Linked DNA regions of Homo sapiens. The protein of the gene in region 1 interacts with the protein of each later gene in a biochemical or structural test. Each region holds a gene or a part of one and is shown on either strand. Other genes may lie near its edges.

Evidence for each region.
Region 2: the proteins of ABCC4 (region 1) and MPP1 form a complex in vitro, tested with the Homo sapiens proteins (2 studies listed by BioGRID and IntAct, with this or other methods).

What each region holds. Positions count from the first base shown.
Region 1 is NC_000013.11:95,066,812-95,075,617, forward strand, and holds part of ABCC4 (ATP-binding cassette sub-family C member 4), read right to left. Parts: intron 8,741-8,806; coding exon 8,621-8,740; intron 7,514-8,620; coding exon 7,403-7,513; intron 6,494-7,402; coding exon 6,393-6,493; intron 5,043-6,392; coding exon 4,851-5,042; intron 1-4,850. UniProt on the Homo sapiens protein: ATP-dependent transporter of the ATP-binding cassette (ABC) family that actively extrudes physiological compounds and xenobiotics from cells.
Region 2 is NC_000023.11:154,787,406-154,796,211, forward strand, and holds part of MPP1 (55 kDa erythrocyte membrane protein), read right to left. Parts: intron 4,881-8,806; coding exon 4,737-4,880; intron 4,443-4,736; coding exon 4,364-4,442; intron 3,664-4,363; coding exon 3,578-3,663; intron 2,618-3,577; coding exon 2,549-2,617; intron 1-2,548. UniProt on the Homo sapiens protein: Essential regulator of neutrophil polarity. Regulates neutrophil polarization by regulating AKT1 phosphorylation through a mechanism that is independent of PIK3CG activity.

The DNA.
Region 1 (8,806 bases):
AGCTAGAAGGGAGACAGCGGGGAGAAGTGTGGTTGTCTTTAAAGGCACTGGCCTGCCATACTGGTCCTATTGTCATACATTTAATGCATGCTGTGGACATGCGTGAGTATAAGAAGGTGGCTAGGACAAGAAGCTGACTACTGTGAGCCAAGACAGTACCTGTATTAGGGTGGATTACAGCTGTTGACAGGAAGAACTGGCACCCACAGAAGAGGCTGGGAGAGAAGCCTGCAGCTACGTTGGACATGGGGCAACTGGGAAACAGGCCAGACAGACCTAGTGTACTGTGGGGCAGTGAGACCCATTTTGATCCCATCAGTAGTGAACGGAACTCAAATACATCGCTGTGCTGAGCTGGTATGAGGACAGAGACTGCTATTCATGGAAGGCTGTATGGTGGGATGAAAACTGTGATAGAAGACAGAGATGACCGGAAAGGTGCAAATGAATGCATAAATGGGGAATCACACAGAATTAAATTGTAATGTAAATTCATAATTTGCAGAATATAAAAGTAAAAAAACAAAAAACCTGTAGGGTGGCACTTGGCCCAGGACTATCCAGAGTCTCATGTTTAGTCACAAGAGGGGCTGGGGCAATCCACGAGCTCCACTTCAAGTTGTCAAAGGAAGTTTCTTGGAAATCACAGATTATTAGTCATCCAAAATTGCTTACCGGAGAGCAACGGCTTTAATGCAGGGGCAGGAGTGGGGGTGGTTCTTGTCCCAGTGCAATTTTAATCAAAAGGGTGGGGTGGGCCTGACAGTCTGCATTTCTAACATGTTTCCAAGCAGAGGCAGGTGATGCTGATCCCAGCCCCTGAGATGAGCAAGCAGGCAGGGCAAGTGGGACAATCTGGCTGTGAGAGGAGGGGTTTCTCAGCAAACATTAATGTAAAAAAGGAGAGAATATAAGAAACTAATATTTTTGCACACTATAGCAAGGTCTAGTACACATCTGTAAAAAGGTATTATCCAAGTAATAGCTTTGAGCAAGGAAAAAAAAATAACAAACCAAAATCAATCTACCTCTAGAGCTGAAAAATGCTTTAAAATGGCCCAGTACTCTCTAAAATGATTAAATCAACCACAAAACCATCTAAATGAAAAATGCAGCCAGTGTTTGGAATCTAACCAGGAAGGCTAGGGTGGTATATACCTCATTTTGGTTCATTCTTTTTTACTTGCTATTTCTTCTGTGAATTAGAAACCTACTTAGCGCCTATTACTTTTTCCTATTTGTTATAATGTCCAGGAAATCTGAGCAGATGAAGCAATTGAAAGAGAATGAAGCCCTGTTTCTGCTGTGTGGACACATTCCTACATCTCCACTGGAAACAATGCCCCTCTCCATCAGCTCCAACAGCAAAGGGACTGCCTGAGATCCTGGGGCTGCAGGCAGGTGTGGAGGAGACGAACCCTGAATATACACACAAAAAGTGGAACCAACTCACCACGATGTTGCCTGAATACACAAATGAAGCTAAAGGTGACACTGTGAGTGAACCAGGACACAAATCAAAAGCCAAGTGGGGCTCAGCGCAGTGGCTCATGCCTGTAATCCCAGCACTTTGGGAGGTCGAGGCAGGTGGATTGCTTGAGGTCGGGGTTCAAGACCAGCCTGACCAACATGGTGAAACCCCGGATCCACTAAATATACAAAAATTAGCCAGGCATGGCAGCGGGTGCCTGTAATTGCAGCTACTCGGGAGGCTGAGGCAGGAGAATCGCTTGAACCTGAGAGGCAGAATGAGCCAAGATTGCGCCACTGCACTCCAGCCTAGATGACACAGCGAGACTCTGTCTCAAAAGCCAAGTGGTTGTAGCTATAATTCAGTCTTCAAATTCAATTTACCCTCCCACATTTCAGATCTCAGGTAATCCTATGATTTGGGGGGGTTTTAAGATGGAACGATATCAATGTGGGGATATAGGTTGTTTTCTAATGTGTACAACAGAGGTTTGTAGATAATTCATATTTTATGGCTACAAGAGAAATTTACAACGTGGCCAAACTAACAGAATGATGTTGATCAGGTAGGACCTAATAACACATTGTCTGAGAGTAAGCAAACATCCCCCTGGCCCCATCAGGAACAGAATCTGAGAAACCTTGCTTTCAGCAAGAGCTACAGCTGATGCTGCCTGCAGAGTGGTCTCCACCTTCTTCACACTCACAAGGATGCTGGGTAGATAATGAGGAATCAGCTTTTGCTGGTTCCCTGGGTATCTTCTGGGCATGAAGCTGTATATTTATTTTTCATGGCACAAGGGTATCATTCATTCAATTGTGACTATAGCCCATTAAATGGGTCTGTGGTGGGAAGAGCTGAAAAGAGCAGTTCCGAAAGTATCTAACACTGACACCCAGAGAACGGGCTGTTGCGGGAGCTGTCGTGTGTGTTTTGTTACCGATTTCTTTGTATGTGCATATCCCTCACTCTCACAGGCACCCACCATGTGCCCTGCAGCATGCCATTTTCTGGGGGTACAGAGACGAATATAAAATGCTCCCTGACTTTAAGAGGCTCAGGGTACTGTGAGATGCTGACCCAGAATTATAAATCATGCCATCGTGCTATCTTCTTTAAAAAAAAATTGTGGTAAAATACACAAAAGGTACTTTATGTACTTTTCAAATTGTGGTAAAGTAACATAAAATTGATCATTGTAATCACTTGAAAATGTTCAGTTCAATTATATTAAATACATTCATGTTGTTGGGCAACCGTCACCATCATCCATCTCTAAAACTCCATTTATCTTGTAAAACTGAAACTCTGTACCCATTAAACACTAATGCCCATTCCCCTACCCCTGCCGCCCACCATCCTACTTTCTGTCTCCATGACTAACTACTCCAGGTACCCACATGTAAGTGGAACCTTATAGCACCGTCCTTAGGTGTCTGGCCTAATTCACTCAGCATAATGTCCTCAGGGCTCATCCATGTCAGAATCACACATGTCAGCATGTGTCAGAATCACCTTCTTTTTAAGTCTGGATAATATTCCATTATGCGTGCGTATCACATTTTGTTTTTCCATTCCTCAGTCAATGGACACTTGGGCTGCTTCCACCTACTGCTCACTGCAAATAATGCTGTTATGAACACGGGTGGGCCACAGATGTTACATTAAAGAATCTGGCCAGGCATGGTGGCTCATGCCTGTAATCCCAGGCATGATTTGGGAGGTTAAGGTGGGCGGATCACTTTAGCTCAGGAGTTCGAGACCAGCCATGGCCAACATGGCAAAACCTGGTCTCTACTAAAAATTCAAAAATGAGTTGGGTATGGTGGTGCACACCTATAATCCCAGCTACGGGGGAGGTTGAAGCAGGAAAATCGCTTGAACCTGGGAGGTGGAGGTTGCAGTGTGCCGGGAATGTGACATTGCACTCCAGCCTGGGCGACAGAGCAAGACTCTGTCTCGAAAAAAGAATCTATAAGATGATGTGGAGAATATAGTTTCAAAGAGGCAGAGATGCTTGAACTGACTGAAAAGGGTGCACACTAAGAGCAAGGCAGACAGGTGCTTGGGGAGAAGGAGGGCACCCTGAGTGCAGGGGATGTGTGTCCATATTGGGAGTTGTGAGGAGAGGGGTGGGAAGGGGAAGAGATTCTACTGTCTTGTTTGTTCTGGTTTAGTTCCTTCAAGAGGCTGTCCTAGTCCTAGCCAAGGGCCCCAGGACACATGTGAAAGGGACATTGCTGGCAGACTTAGATACCTGCAAAACCAGCTCACAAAACTCCACACAGCCTCCCAAGTCCCTCCTTGTTTTCCTTTCACTGACTTTGAGTGAGTCTCTGGTGCCTTTACTGCCTCCAGCTTGGGGGTCTGATTTCTGAGCACTGATGGGGTCATGGGATCTGGGTCTTCCCTTGGGGGCTGAGAGCCAGACAGGTCCTGTCAGGGTGGGCCTGGGGCTCATTAAGGTTGCAGCAGCTGCTCACCCAGGCAAGGAGCTGGCCACGTAAGGATCAGATCTGTGATCAAACTGTTTCAGAAAGAAAGAGTTTGCAGTGAAAGGGATGGGGAGGGAAAGCAAAGCACAGGTTAAAGGAAGGCAAGAAAGACTAAGGAAAGGGCCTGATAATGTTTGGCTGTGTCCCCACCCAAATCTCATCTTAAATTCCCACATGTTGTGGGAGGGACCCGGTGGGAGGTAATTGAATCATGGGGGCAGGTCTTTCCTGTGGTGTTCTCATGATAGTGAATAAGTATCATGAGATCTGATGGTTTTATAAGGGGAAGTTTCCCTGCACAAACTCTCTTTGCCTGCTGCCATCCATATAAGATGTGACTTGCTCCTCCTTGCCTGCCATCATGAGTCTGAGGCCTCCCCATCCATGTGGAACTTTAAGTCCATTAAACCTCTCTTTCTTCTGTAAATTGCCTAGTCTTGGGTATACCTTTATCAGCAGTGTGAAAACAGACTAATACAGGACCAAAGGATGGAGGAGGAGAAAGGCTGGAACAGAAGCTGCAGCAGTGGAGGGGAAGAGAAGGACTTGAGAAATGCAACAAAGTAAAAATCGACAGAATTAGACATAGGAGTGTTGGTGACACAAAGCCAGAGTTGACTTCCTGGAAAAATCCATGAGTAATTAGGTATCAAACAGAGTATCCTGGGTCACGTTAAGCTCCAGCCCTGAGGCCCGGGGCCCACCAACCACAGTAAAGCAGTTCACAGCAGGAAGAATGTTGGTATCCACATTCCATGGTTAGTTTCCAAGACAGGTTAACCTACGTATCACTGATCCCCTTCACACATCCACAAGGAAGACAACAAGCAGACATAGCACTAAATCTTCTGAAATTGAGAAGAGGCAAGATGCTTTAAACAAACCTTTTCTTGTGATTTAATGAGTGCTGTCAGATGCTTCAGTACCAGAGGCCCACCTGGACTGTACATGAAGTTCACATTGTCAAAGATTATCACTCCTTCATGGGGCCAGGCTGGTGGTGGGCGTTTCTGATATTCCCAAGGTGCTTCTTTTTCAAGGTCTGTGTATTCAATGACCCTTTCTACTGAGATCATCTGAAAGAAATATGACATCCCGAGGGGTTAGGAATGGAGGGTGTCATTTATGGATGTTAAGAGACTGTCAATGAAATGTTCTTCTTTCATACATAGTTGGTTAAGGAGAGAAGCAGGAGACAGACGAGGATGTTGATGACTTACAAATTTGGTTCATCATTGTGTAACACCTTCACTTACAACCACTTCCTTCAACATTAGGTTAAAAGAATGAGAGAAATGAATGCTTAGATTTTATTTATCCACTTCTCACACCTGTATTAAAGGCAAGAAAATTTTGTAAAGGAAAGGAATACTTAGAGCCACCAATCAAGAATCTTTTGCTGGCTGGGCGCGGTGGCTCATGCCTATAATCCCAGCACTTTGGGAGGCCGGGGCAGGTGGATCACCTAAGGTCAGGTGTTTGACACCAGCCTGGTCAACATGGTGAAACCCCATTTCTACTAAAAATACAAAAATTAGCTGGGCGTGGTGCTGCATGCCTGTAATCCCAGCTACTCAGGAGGCTGAGGCAGGAAAATCGCTTGAACCCGGGAGGCGGAGGTTGCAGTGAGCCAAGATCGCACTATTGCACTCCAGCCTGGGGTACAAGAGCAAAACTCTGTCCCCTCACCCCTACCCCCCAAAAAAGAATCTTTTGCTATAGAAGGATCACCTGATATAGGTCAGTTAAACTGGATGATCGTGAAACCTCACTGTAATAATTACTCAACTTTTGCTCTATGAGAAGAATGAAAAGATTTTTATGTTTATTGCTTTTCTCTCTTTAGGGGAAGGTGCAAATATTTAAAACATTGATTAAAGCCTCCTATACCACCATAAACTAATACCCTTTGACTAGCACATTCCAAGAGGAGGCTTTCTGTACCAAGAAGGCACACCAGCAAAGTTAAGGCCTTCCTCCCTTCTGTTCTTCACATAAGAGAGTAAACGCTAGAACTGGGAGAGGAGGAGACCTATTAATTAAATGTAAACAACCTCAAAATACTGAAGTCTTCTTTTAACAGGAATGAGGAATTACCCGTTAAGAAACAAAATTAAACAGGCTTCTAAGAAATTAGCTTATATCCTCTCTAGAATTTCAGAACCTCCCTCCTACAGAGACATTTATTACATCTGAAAAAGCTTGTGATGAATATAAAACCTGCTGACAGAGCAACCATAAGACTCAGAAAAAGATGTATATATTTTATTTTACATTAACTTTAAACAGATGGAGGAAGGATCTTAAAAAAAATCTGTTACCAAAGATGTAAAAATAACAGTTTTAATATTTCACATAAGAATGGCTTTTATACCATTTAATGGCAAGGAGATTGAAAAGGCAAAGAACGTGAAGGTAAATATTACCATATTCTCAACTTCAGCACTTTGTCGAACACACCACTGAAACATCCCCATGAGCGTGAGGGCATAGGACAGTGCCAAACCAACCTGCCCGGCATCCAGAGCTACGTAAGGAGGAAGAAGGGAATAAAGTCAGTCTCACTTCAAACCTAAGCCTGGCTCCTTCTGCCACTTACCAAGAGGAACCCTTCATAATGTTGAAACAATTCACATTTAATGACATTAATAGCTATACTTTTACCATTTGTTGCTTGAGATCAAGATACAATGGGGAAAACAACACTGTATATTTAGAAAAATTTTTAGATGATTTTATGAATTCCAACAGGATCGACATAGATTTAATTAACAGTATTACAAACGCAAGAAATAATGTCATTATTCAGACATTCATTATTATGGTTTCAAAGCTCATTACATTATTCCACTTTCTACGTGCAATGCAACCACAGCTGGAAACCACTAAAAACAAAGCAATAGGTTGTAAGTGCCAATGCTTTTGAGACTAAAATACTACTCTCCTTGTTCCATTATTAAGTATTGTAATGCACTGTTGTTACTGGGGTGGTGAACTCATGCCCTGCTTGTCTGGTACCCATGTGGCATTGAAGATAATACTCTCCTGCTGAGAATTTTTCTCAACCTCATGCACCAGGCAACTACAAACAATAGATTCAAGTAGTTGGAAGGCTAACACCCTAAGTTGGACAAAATGCTTCAGAATAAATTGGTTTTCTCTTCACAACTACCAGACACTAACAGGAATGTTCAGAATCTCAACTGCGCATATCTCAACCCATTCAAAGAAAGATAAACCCATCAAGACCCAAATGACTCCTTAAATGAGTCACACTGCTGAATCCTACCCAACCTGACACATCGTAAATGATTTAATACACTTCATTAGGACCAAACAGTATGTAGTAGTAGACAAGGTGGCAAGAGTTTAATAAATGTAAACACAGCTATAAATTGTAATCATACCATACATAGTTATTCACATCTGTACTTACTTTTTGCCAGAATCAGGGACCCAAAGGCAACGATGATGACAAACATGGCACAGATGGCATCCAGACGGACGGCAAACCAGCGGGACGTTGTCAAAAACAAGAACCAAGCCTCTGAATTTGAGAACGGTAATAAGCATGATGAATAAGTAGATGAATGTGCGAGTGTGTTTTGCTCAGTTGAGCTACAGAAGATTTTTACGTGGAGTAGGGCACCAAAGTTGCACACCCAAGGAACCTTTAGATTCCAGAAAGCTAAGTGATACAGGCAATATACGATACACATACACAATGGTACCGTGGCTTTCTGTGAGGATGCATGCGAATATGAAACCCAGAAATATGATCCTAATAAAGAACTGAGAAAAGTAGTCTCATAAGGACATCTCGTACAGTGCTGAGAAATACTTATGTGAAGTGCATCTCATGTGAAGTCCACCCACACACATGGTTGACTGGTCCAGTTCTCCAACAGCAGAGTGCAGCTCCCATTTTACTTCTCCCACCTTCCATACTTACCAGAAGGCCCACACACACTGACTATTGCTTAGGGGCTATATAAAAATGACCTCACTAACAGGATTTGCATGTGGTTTTTTGTTTGTTTGTTTGCTACTTCTTTTTTCCTTTTAGCATGTGGTTTTTAAAGTGCCATTTAATCAGCAAGATAAAATAAAGATTGGAATGACGGATCTGAATTTTGTAGATTTGGTGGAAATTCTGAAATTTCCATATTGAAAAAATCTTCACTGATGCAAGGGGTCAGCAAACTACAGCACGTGAGCCAGCACCTATTTTTGTAAATAAAGTTTTATTGAAACATAGTCACAGCCATTTGCCAATGTATTGACATCTGCTTTTGTGCTACAATGGCAAAGGTGATTCATCACAACAGAGACAATAATGGCACACAATGCCTAAAACACTTACTAGGTGGCCTTTTGCAGAAAACGTTTGCTGACAGAGCCACAGGCCATGCATGGTGAGAGAAAGACCCCACAAGCCAGTCAGGGGGCACAAAGAGGGAACGTGCAGCAGCGATTCCGAGAGGAGTCCAAGCCCAGAAGAAGGGGATGGGGAAGGAGACGAAGATGCGCAAAAAAAGCAGGATGTGGGGCTGGGCCCTGAGGTGCCTGCCAACAAGCTCATCTGACCAGGGAGGTTAAGCCAGAAAAAGCAGCAGATCCTGTCCTTTGAAACCATTTCCAGAAATAGACAGACCTGAATGTAAATCCTGGTGTGCATCAAACAGTTCCTGACACCTCTCTTCTGCTTTGTATGCCCGGATGGTCCAGAGCCCCTGGAGAGAAGATGATAAGTGGGAAAACACTGGACTCCGAGCTGGGGAAACAGACAGAGAAAACAGCTCAGTGAGGCTGGGTGCAGAAAAACCTGCGGCCTCCCAAG
Region 2 (8,806 bases), on another chromosome or scaffold:
AGAAGGTTTACTACCTGAAGGGCAATAAATTCACCACGTTAACATAAAAATGGAAAAAGATCATATGATCCCCTCAATAGATGCAGAAAAAGCCTGTGATAACATTCAAAACCCATTCAAGATTAAAATTCTTAGCAAACTTGGAATAGAAGGGAGGTTCTTTACTGTGAGAAAGAATACCTACAGAAACCCTACATCCAACGTCATACTTCTCAGTGAAAGATTAAAAGCTTTCCCTGCCTTTTTCAAAGGACATGGGTCTTGCTATGTTACCCAGGTTGGTCTCGAACTCCTGGGCTCAAGCAATCCACCCGCCTCGGCCTCCCAAAGTGCTAGGATTACAGGCGCATGCCACCACACCTGGCCAGCTTTCCCTTTAAGATGGAAAAATAAACAAAGATGTCTGCTATCATCACTTCCACTGGGATACTGTGAAGATGCCTCTTTTATCCAAACTGATATGTAGGTTTGACACAGGGATAAACAAACAGTCCAAAAGAAAAGAATAAAAAGTTCCAAAATAGACCTGTAAATATTACCATGACAAAAGTGACAGTGTACAGTAAATGATACTGGTTCAATTGGTATCCATATGGAAAAACTGGAATCTTGACCTCTTACCTTACAATGTATATAACAATCAATCCCAGATGGGTTGTGGATCCAAATGTGAAAAATCAAACAAGTAAGCATTTAGAAGAAAACACAGGAGAATATCTTGTTGACCTTGTGGTAAGTAAAAACTTTTAAAACAAGACATAAAAAGTGCTAATCAGAAAAAAGTGGTAGATTGGATTTCATTAAAATTAAGAGTTTCTAGTCATTAACAGGAACCATGAAGAAAATAAGCCACAGAAGAAGAGAACATACTTGGGATGCATATGACAAAGGACTCTTATCCAGAATATATGAGGAACTGCTACAAATCAGTAAGAAAAGCCTTGAATTGGTATCTTACAAAAGAGGATATCCAAGTGGAAAAAAACATATAAAAAGGAGTTTACCCTCATTAGTCATTAGAGAATTTTTAGAATCACAATGTGATACCACCATCAGGATGGCCAAAGGGTGAAAAAAAACCCAACAAATCAGACAATGCTAAGTATTGGTGAGAATACAGAACAACCAGAACTGTCATACTGTGCAGTTGGGGATGTAACATGGTTCACCAACTTTGGAATACTATTTGGCAATATCACCTAAAGATGAAGACACATATATCCTACAACCTGGCAATTCTACTCTCAAAAGAAAGGCATAGATGTATCCACAAAACACATGCACAAAAATCATATGATTTTTCTCCATTTTTCTGTTAACGTGGTGAATTTATTGCCCTTCAGGCAGTAAATCTTCTCATATTGCTGAATTAGATCCTGTTTGGTGAATGGCAGCCATTCAATGTAAGACCAAAAAAGCTGACAGAATAGATTAAATTGTAGCATGTTCATACAATGAATGAATGAGAATGAAGCAATATAGATGATTCCCATAAACATAATACTGAGCGAATAAAATAAGACACCAAAGAATTCATACTGTATAATTCAACGTTAATACATTTCAAAAGGGGGCAAAACTCATCCCTGCTGTTAGAAGTCAGGGTTATGGTGGGCCTTGAGGAAACACGCATGGTGAGGGGGCGGCGGTCTTAGGCATGGGTGTACTCAGTTTGTGAAAATTCATCCAGTTTTATACTTGTGATTTGTGCCCTTTGTTGAATATATGCCCATATATGCCAAAACTGCAATTTAAAAGTTTACTTAAGAAAATTATACCGTCACACTACAAGTAACCTGCAATAGAAACTTCAGATTTATTCTTTTAAATATCTCCTTCTTCCACATTGACTTGCCATGGCCCTGTCCAATCTATTCCTCTACTGGCTGATGAGCTATGTGTGAACTGGGAACCATTTCTCTTTATATCACCTCCATGTTCTAGCACAGTACTTTGTACATGGTAGACCCTCAATAAATTGTGAATAAGTGCTCAACAGATTCTATCTATCTTTTGTTTCTTTCTTTACTTTGCCACTATCAATCACGGGGCTTTATTATTGCTATTTTAAAAAGTATTTGCCAATTTGCTTGGTGAAAACTGGTGTCTCATGCATATTTTAATTTGCATTTCTTTGATGATCGGTAAGATAAAATATTTTTTCATATGTTCAATGCTCATTTGTAGTTTTCCTCCTGTGAATGATCTCTTCATTCCCTTTACCCATTTTCCTCTTGGAGCTGTATTGATTCCTTACCATCTGTAGAATAAAATTACCCTCTCCCTTCCTACCTGACCACTAGCAGCAAAGGCTCATTCATTCTCTACTCCTGTCGTCACTATGTTCTCCATTGAGGAAAGGGGAATGAGCTCCTGTATTTTATACCAGGCAGGGAATAATGGGACCCTGAGCCAAGCAGCTACACACTTGCGAGATACTTAGAACTTAAAGTTAGACTCACATCCCTTATAATCAAATTTCAAAGAATATAAGACAACATGGCCCGACTCCTGCCATCATGACAACAGAGAAAATGGTGCCACCCACCTGTAGTGCAGGAAGACGGCTTTGCTGGTTGGGAATTACTTTTAATGAGATCATTCCTTTGGTTTCTTTCTATTAAAAAAAATGGACATAAAATTGTACAGAAAACTAAGTTGAATGATGTGATCATTCATTCAAAGTCCCAGGTTTTTTTCCCCAACAACCATCTTTACATTTTGAGATTTTGTAGGACAATTCCTCCTTTAATACAAAAGTGTCATGTGCCCCATAAATCAGCATAACAATATGAAGACATGCAAAGAGTAACAAAGAAAAGCTAACTAAAGACTTTTCCGAGCTGGGCACGGTGGCTCACGCCTGTTGTAATCCCAGCTCTTTGGGAGGCTGAGGTGGGCGCATCGTCTGAGGTCAGGAGTTCAAGACTAGCCTGGCCAACATGGTGAAACCCTGTCTCTACTAAAAATACAAAAATTAGCCAGCGTGATGGTGGGTACCTGTAATCCCAGCTACTTGGGAGGTTGAGGCAGGAGAATCGCTTGAACCCAGGAGGCGGAGGTTGCAGTGAGCCGAGATCACGCCATTGTACTCCAGCCTGGGTGACAGAGCGAAACTCCATCTCAAAAAAAAAAAAAAAAGACTTTTCTTCCCCATTCTTTACCCCAAAAAGTCCTGAAGAAGTTCCTAAAAATGAACTATGGCGCATATATATCCACGCCTTTCCCCATACCAACAAAAGCATTACAAATATTTACATACATTATGCATACATATGTATTGTTTGTTTTTAACAAAAATGGGATTCTACTATATACGTTATAGCTTGCTTTACTTCATTTGGCATTACTTCATGGAACACCAGATTGATGCTCTGGGTTATTTGCCCTGCTTTAGAATTTTACTAAATAAAGGCAGAAAATTATCATTTCTTACACAGATTAAAGACTAGCAGTGAAAAGAGCCCCCTCAAGAAGGTACAAATACTTTGACAGAGAGATGAGGTCACTGATACCAATGTGGATCAACACTTATGGAGACAATGGAAGGTCTTCATCTAGCATAGAAAATACCCACCATCGCCTTCTGCAGCTGATCCACTGAATGATTTGTCACATTTGTGCCATTGATTTCTAGGATCTCATCCCCCACGTGAAGGGAGCCTGCCATGAAATGAAAAATCAATCCACAAAAGAACAAAAGTTCAAACAGGAGCTGTCAATGTAACTCAAGATACCATAGAAGAGAAACCAGGATTTACAGCATGTTATGAAACAGATTGTGTCAAATACTCAGGATTGAAAACATTTGACTTGACAGTTTAAGATGGTCTCATCCTCCTTGGCCTCAGTAGTCCAACAGCACAATAAAACACCTTGTCCTCAAATTCCTGGAACTAGAGTGGCTACTGACTCCAGACTATGACACAGATGTATACACTAAAAAGAATAACAAAGCAAGGCAAAGAACTCAGTACTCCTCTTTCACCAGCAAGCTCCATGTTTCTTTGTTGTTTAGCTCAAACCCCAAAATGCTACCAAGTGGTACTGCTGTCCTTTCCAAGTCTAATGCAATGGGTGGCATGTGGCAATTGCTCAAATATTAACTTACTAGAAAAATATTGGTATAAATAGGTGTGAAAGAAGGCTCAGATAGGGAGATGGTGGCACTGGGCAATTCACATAGAGATCTTATCATGTACTGATTCTACAGAGCCAGTTATTAAGCCACAAAAAGTCTCTTGGCACACTCACAAAAATGCTACCAGTTTGGAGGATTATAAGCTTCATGCCCCACACCACTGAACAGGGAGTAAATTATTAATCCCTGAATCAAACCCCACCCAGAGCTCCCACAGAGTACCTTGTCTATGGATCATGCCACCATGAAGAATTCTGGCCACCGTACAGGACTGTTTTTCATTCAGCTTCAGCGTGATTCCCTGAAATAAAGGCGACGGCACAATAAGCTTTATTTTAAGCTCTTTCTGAGGTTATTTTAGAAAGAACTTACGGTAATTTCTCAGGAAAATATTTTCCATTTATACCCAGGATAGTCCTCAACTAGAACAGGCATGAAGCCTGCTTTGAGGAGGAATTTGAGATAAGAATGAAAAGACAATTTTGGGGTTGGCCAATTCCCTAACTCCATGAGCAGCCTCTTGCATTGACTCTTCTGGCCCAGTGACTCATGGGGCAGAGAGTAACTGGTGGGCGACAATATGACGGGGGATTACCATGGGCTCTTCTGTGACCTTCTCAAACTGTATGAGTCGCACTTTCCGCACCTCCTGTCCCTTGACCTGGGCAGGGCTACCTGGGGCAGGAGACCCGTTGGTGTACATGTCCTCGGTCACAGTATTCAATGGATGCGATACAGCCTGCCAAGCCAAAACAACAAAGCAACGTATGAAATCAGGAGCAAGGCCCACAGCCAGTCCACAATCTGCAATTCTAACATTCAAGAGGCTCTGAAAACTTATTTCATAAGTTTGGCCTCATTCTTATTTGAATTGACATGAAGCTGTTTGTAAGCTTTATTTCTCCAACTTAATAGACATGTCAGCCAAGTGTGGTGGTGTGCACCTGTAGTCCCAGCTACAGTCCCAGGGCAACAGAGTGAGACCCTGTCTCTAAAAATAAATAAAATAGACATGTTTATCTAGGTTGCTGCAGAAATATTAATGTGCCTTGATTTACATGGTGCTCTCCTGGATCCTGCTTGGGGTATTACATAATATATAACAAAATTAGAAAGATTCTGAATCCTGCGGCACCTCAGGCTCCAAGGGTTTCTGGCATGTTCTCTTCTCCTTTGTATTTCCTTGAACAACCTGATGCTCTCGGTCACACAGCAATAAAGGTAATTCAGGTTAGCATCAGTTTCTCATGAATCACCCCTTAGGCTACAAAGAACTTCTACCTGTAGAATTAGGCACTTAGGACTGGGCCCCGAACCGCGGTGATAACAATAATACATTGCCACTGTGACTTCTTCCCCTGATCTCAAAGACAGCAAAGCTAAATGAGTTACTCTACCAGGCAGCAAGGCCTCTTTATTATAAATCTAAAGTAATTTAAGGCACTGTGGTAAGAAGAAAGACAAACGACCCATGTAATGGAACAGAGAGTGCAAAAACAGAGCCACACATTTATAGTCAGGTGACACTGCAGTGCAGCGGGGAAAAATGGTCTGCACGATAAATGTCATAAAAGGTCCCGAGTATAAAATGAAAACTAAAAAGACAAACACTTTAAAAGTAAGAAGTCTATTCATCAAAAAACTCCACTGAGATAAGCATAGATTTAGTAGACGAGACACGGAGCAATCATCATACAAGCAAACAACTGACTTCATCAAATTCAAACATCTTACATAAGAAACTAGACAGGTATGACACAGCCTGAGAATAAACATTTGCAATATTTACATCTGACAAAGGATTTGTATCCAGAACATATAAAGAACTCTTACAATTTAATAACAGGATGAAAAGAACCATAAACAAATCCTGAACTTGAGCCAATGATATGCATGCTGAAGCTTTCAGGGGTAAAGTGCTCTGATATCTGAAACTTATTTTGAAATACCAGGAAAAAGAAGGTGGATAGATGGGCAGTTTTTGGATAGAAATGTGATAAAGCAAACACAGCAACATGTTAACTGTAGAATCTAGGAGGTGTGGCTATATGGGTGTCACTATAAAATTCTTTCATCTTTTTGGCGCCATTCCAAGAGCAGCCAGTACTCTTTAAAAAATATTATAAAATTTAATTTTTGAACCATTTGAGAGTAATCTGAAGACTTCATTCTCCTTTACCCATAGATGTCTCTATATGTTAGGAACGAGCATTTTCAAAACTGAAAATTTAACATTGACACAATATTGTCATCTGCCAACCCTTTCAAGAATGTCCTTTATAGCTATATATTTCTTCCCCAGTCCAGAATCCAACCTAGGACTTTTTGGTCCCAGAATCCAATCTAAGACCAGAATCCAATCATGCATTTCACATTTCCTTACTCTTCCTTAATTTGGAAAATTTCCTCAGCCTTTCTTTTTCTTCTTTCATGACCTTGACATTCTTGAAGAGTACACACCTGTTATTTTGTAGATGTCTCTCAGTTTGGGGTTATCATCTGATGTTTTTTCAAGATTAGACTGGGATTTTGCATTTTTGGCAGGAATTCCAGGAAAGTAGTGGTGTGCCCTTTCCAGAACAACACTACTCTTAAAAGCCCAAACCTGAAAATAGCCCAAAAGTCCATCAACAGTAGAATGGATAAACTGAAGCATATCCAAGTGGATACCCTACATCAATGGCAATGAATGGCTACTGCTACACCACTCCATGGTAGATCACCTGTGGATCAGTCTCACAGGTGATCACTCTCTTCTCCTTAAAATGCTCCTTCTCAGTTTGCTTTGCTGTTCTTTCCTCATCTTACTGATCTGGGTAAGAGCAATCACAATGGGGAAAAACTATGGAAACCTCTGAAAATGCTCCCTGCCCACCCCAGATAAAATATTAAATCAAAAATGATATAGCCACCTGGAGGAGGAGGAGGAGGACGAGGAGGAGGAATAGGCCTGAAGTGGGCTTATGGAAGGGTCTGCTGAAAATAGGGGATAGCTGCATTCCAGTCACACCCAGAGGTGACCCTCAAAGACAGTAGGGAGGGAAGATCTTCCCAATAGGCAGAACTGTGAGGAGTGTGCCATTCACTGTGTGGGGAAGGAGAAGGGTCCCTAGATGGGAATAGATGGTATGCCTGAGCAGTGTCCACTGGCCTGCCCAAGGCCTAGAAAAGGACTAGAAGATGAGAGAGAAGGAAGTCTGGAGTAGAGGCTTACATCATTTCTAAGGGACTCTGATTTCTAAGTAGAAACTTTGATAAGATGGTGAGGTTTGGGCCAGGTGCAGTGGCTAACACCTGTAATCCCAGCACTTTGGGAGGCCAAGGTGGGGAGATCGCTTAAGCCCAGGAGTTTGAGACCAGCCTGGGCAACATGGTGAAACTCCTGCCTCTGTAAGAAATTTTAAAATTAGCTGAGTGTGGTGGTGCAAGCCTGTGGTCCCAGCTACTCAGGAGGCTGAGGCAGGGGGATTGCTTGAGCTCAGGAGTTGGAGGCAGCAGTGAGCCATGATCACACCACTACACTCCAACCTGGGCAACAGAGGAAGACCCTGTCTCAGAAAAACAAACAAACAAACAAACAAACAAAAAACATGGTGAGGTTTGAAGTAGTATTCGCTATCAGGTGACCTCAAATGAGGGAAGTACTGAGAAAGAGAAACTGCCTTCTCTAGCAACTAGAACTTCAAAAAACTCACATGACACCAAGTCATATGGCATTGCTGTTATAACAAAATTGTCTAAGATAGGCTTATATTTAAAAAATTGACTTATGATACCCGGGATACACCATGTAGGTAGGAAAAGGAGGTTCTGAGGGTGATCTTGAAGATTTATTGTTAAGCAAAAAATAATAATAATGTGATGAAGGGTATACTAGCTTCATCATAAACAGTGAAAGAATGATTATATTCATATTTGCTTAAAAATCCATAAACTGGCCAGGTTCAGTGGCTCACACCTGTAATCCCAGCACTTTGGGAGGCTGAGGTGGGAGGATCACCTGAGGTCAGGGGTTCGAGACCAGCCTAGGCAACATAGTAAAACCTCGTCTCTACAAAAAATAAAAAAATTAGCCGGGCATGGTGGCGTGCACCTGTAATCCTAGCTACTCGGGAAGCTGAGGCAGAAGGATTGCTTGAGCCCGGGAGGTCAAGGCTGCAGTGAGTTGTGATTACACCACTGCACTCTAGCCTGGGTGACAGAGTGAGACCCTGTCTCAAAAAATAAAATAAATGAAAATACATAAACTATGTCTGGAAGGAGACATAAGAAACAGTGGTTGCTTCTAGGGAGAGGAACTGGGTGGCTATAAGATGGGGTGAGAAGGAAATTGTTTTCACTGTGTATCAAGTTATACCTTTTAAATTATGTATTATGTGCTTGTGTTACTTTAATAAAATAAATTAGTAAAAGAATTTTCCAAAGTGATTGGGACTCAGGTTCAAGTACTTGTGTGGATCTTGTCCTGCCTCAACCTTGACCCTGTTTAAGTAAGAGTAAACGGGAGGAGGGAAATAGAAACCCACAAAAAGTCATCAGGGTTGAAGGATTTCTTTCTCTTTGTTTTTTTTCCTTTTCTTTTCTTTTCTTTTTTCTTTTTTTGAGAAAGAGTCTCACTCTGTCACCCAGTCTAGAGTGCAGTGGCGTGATCTCGGCTCACTGCAA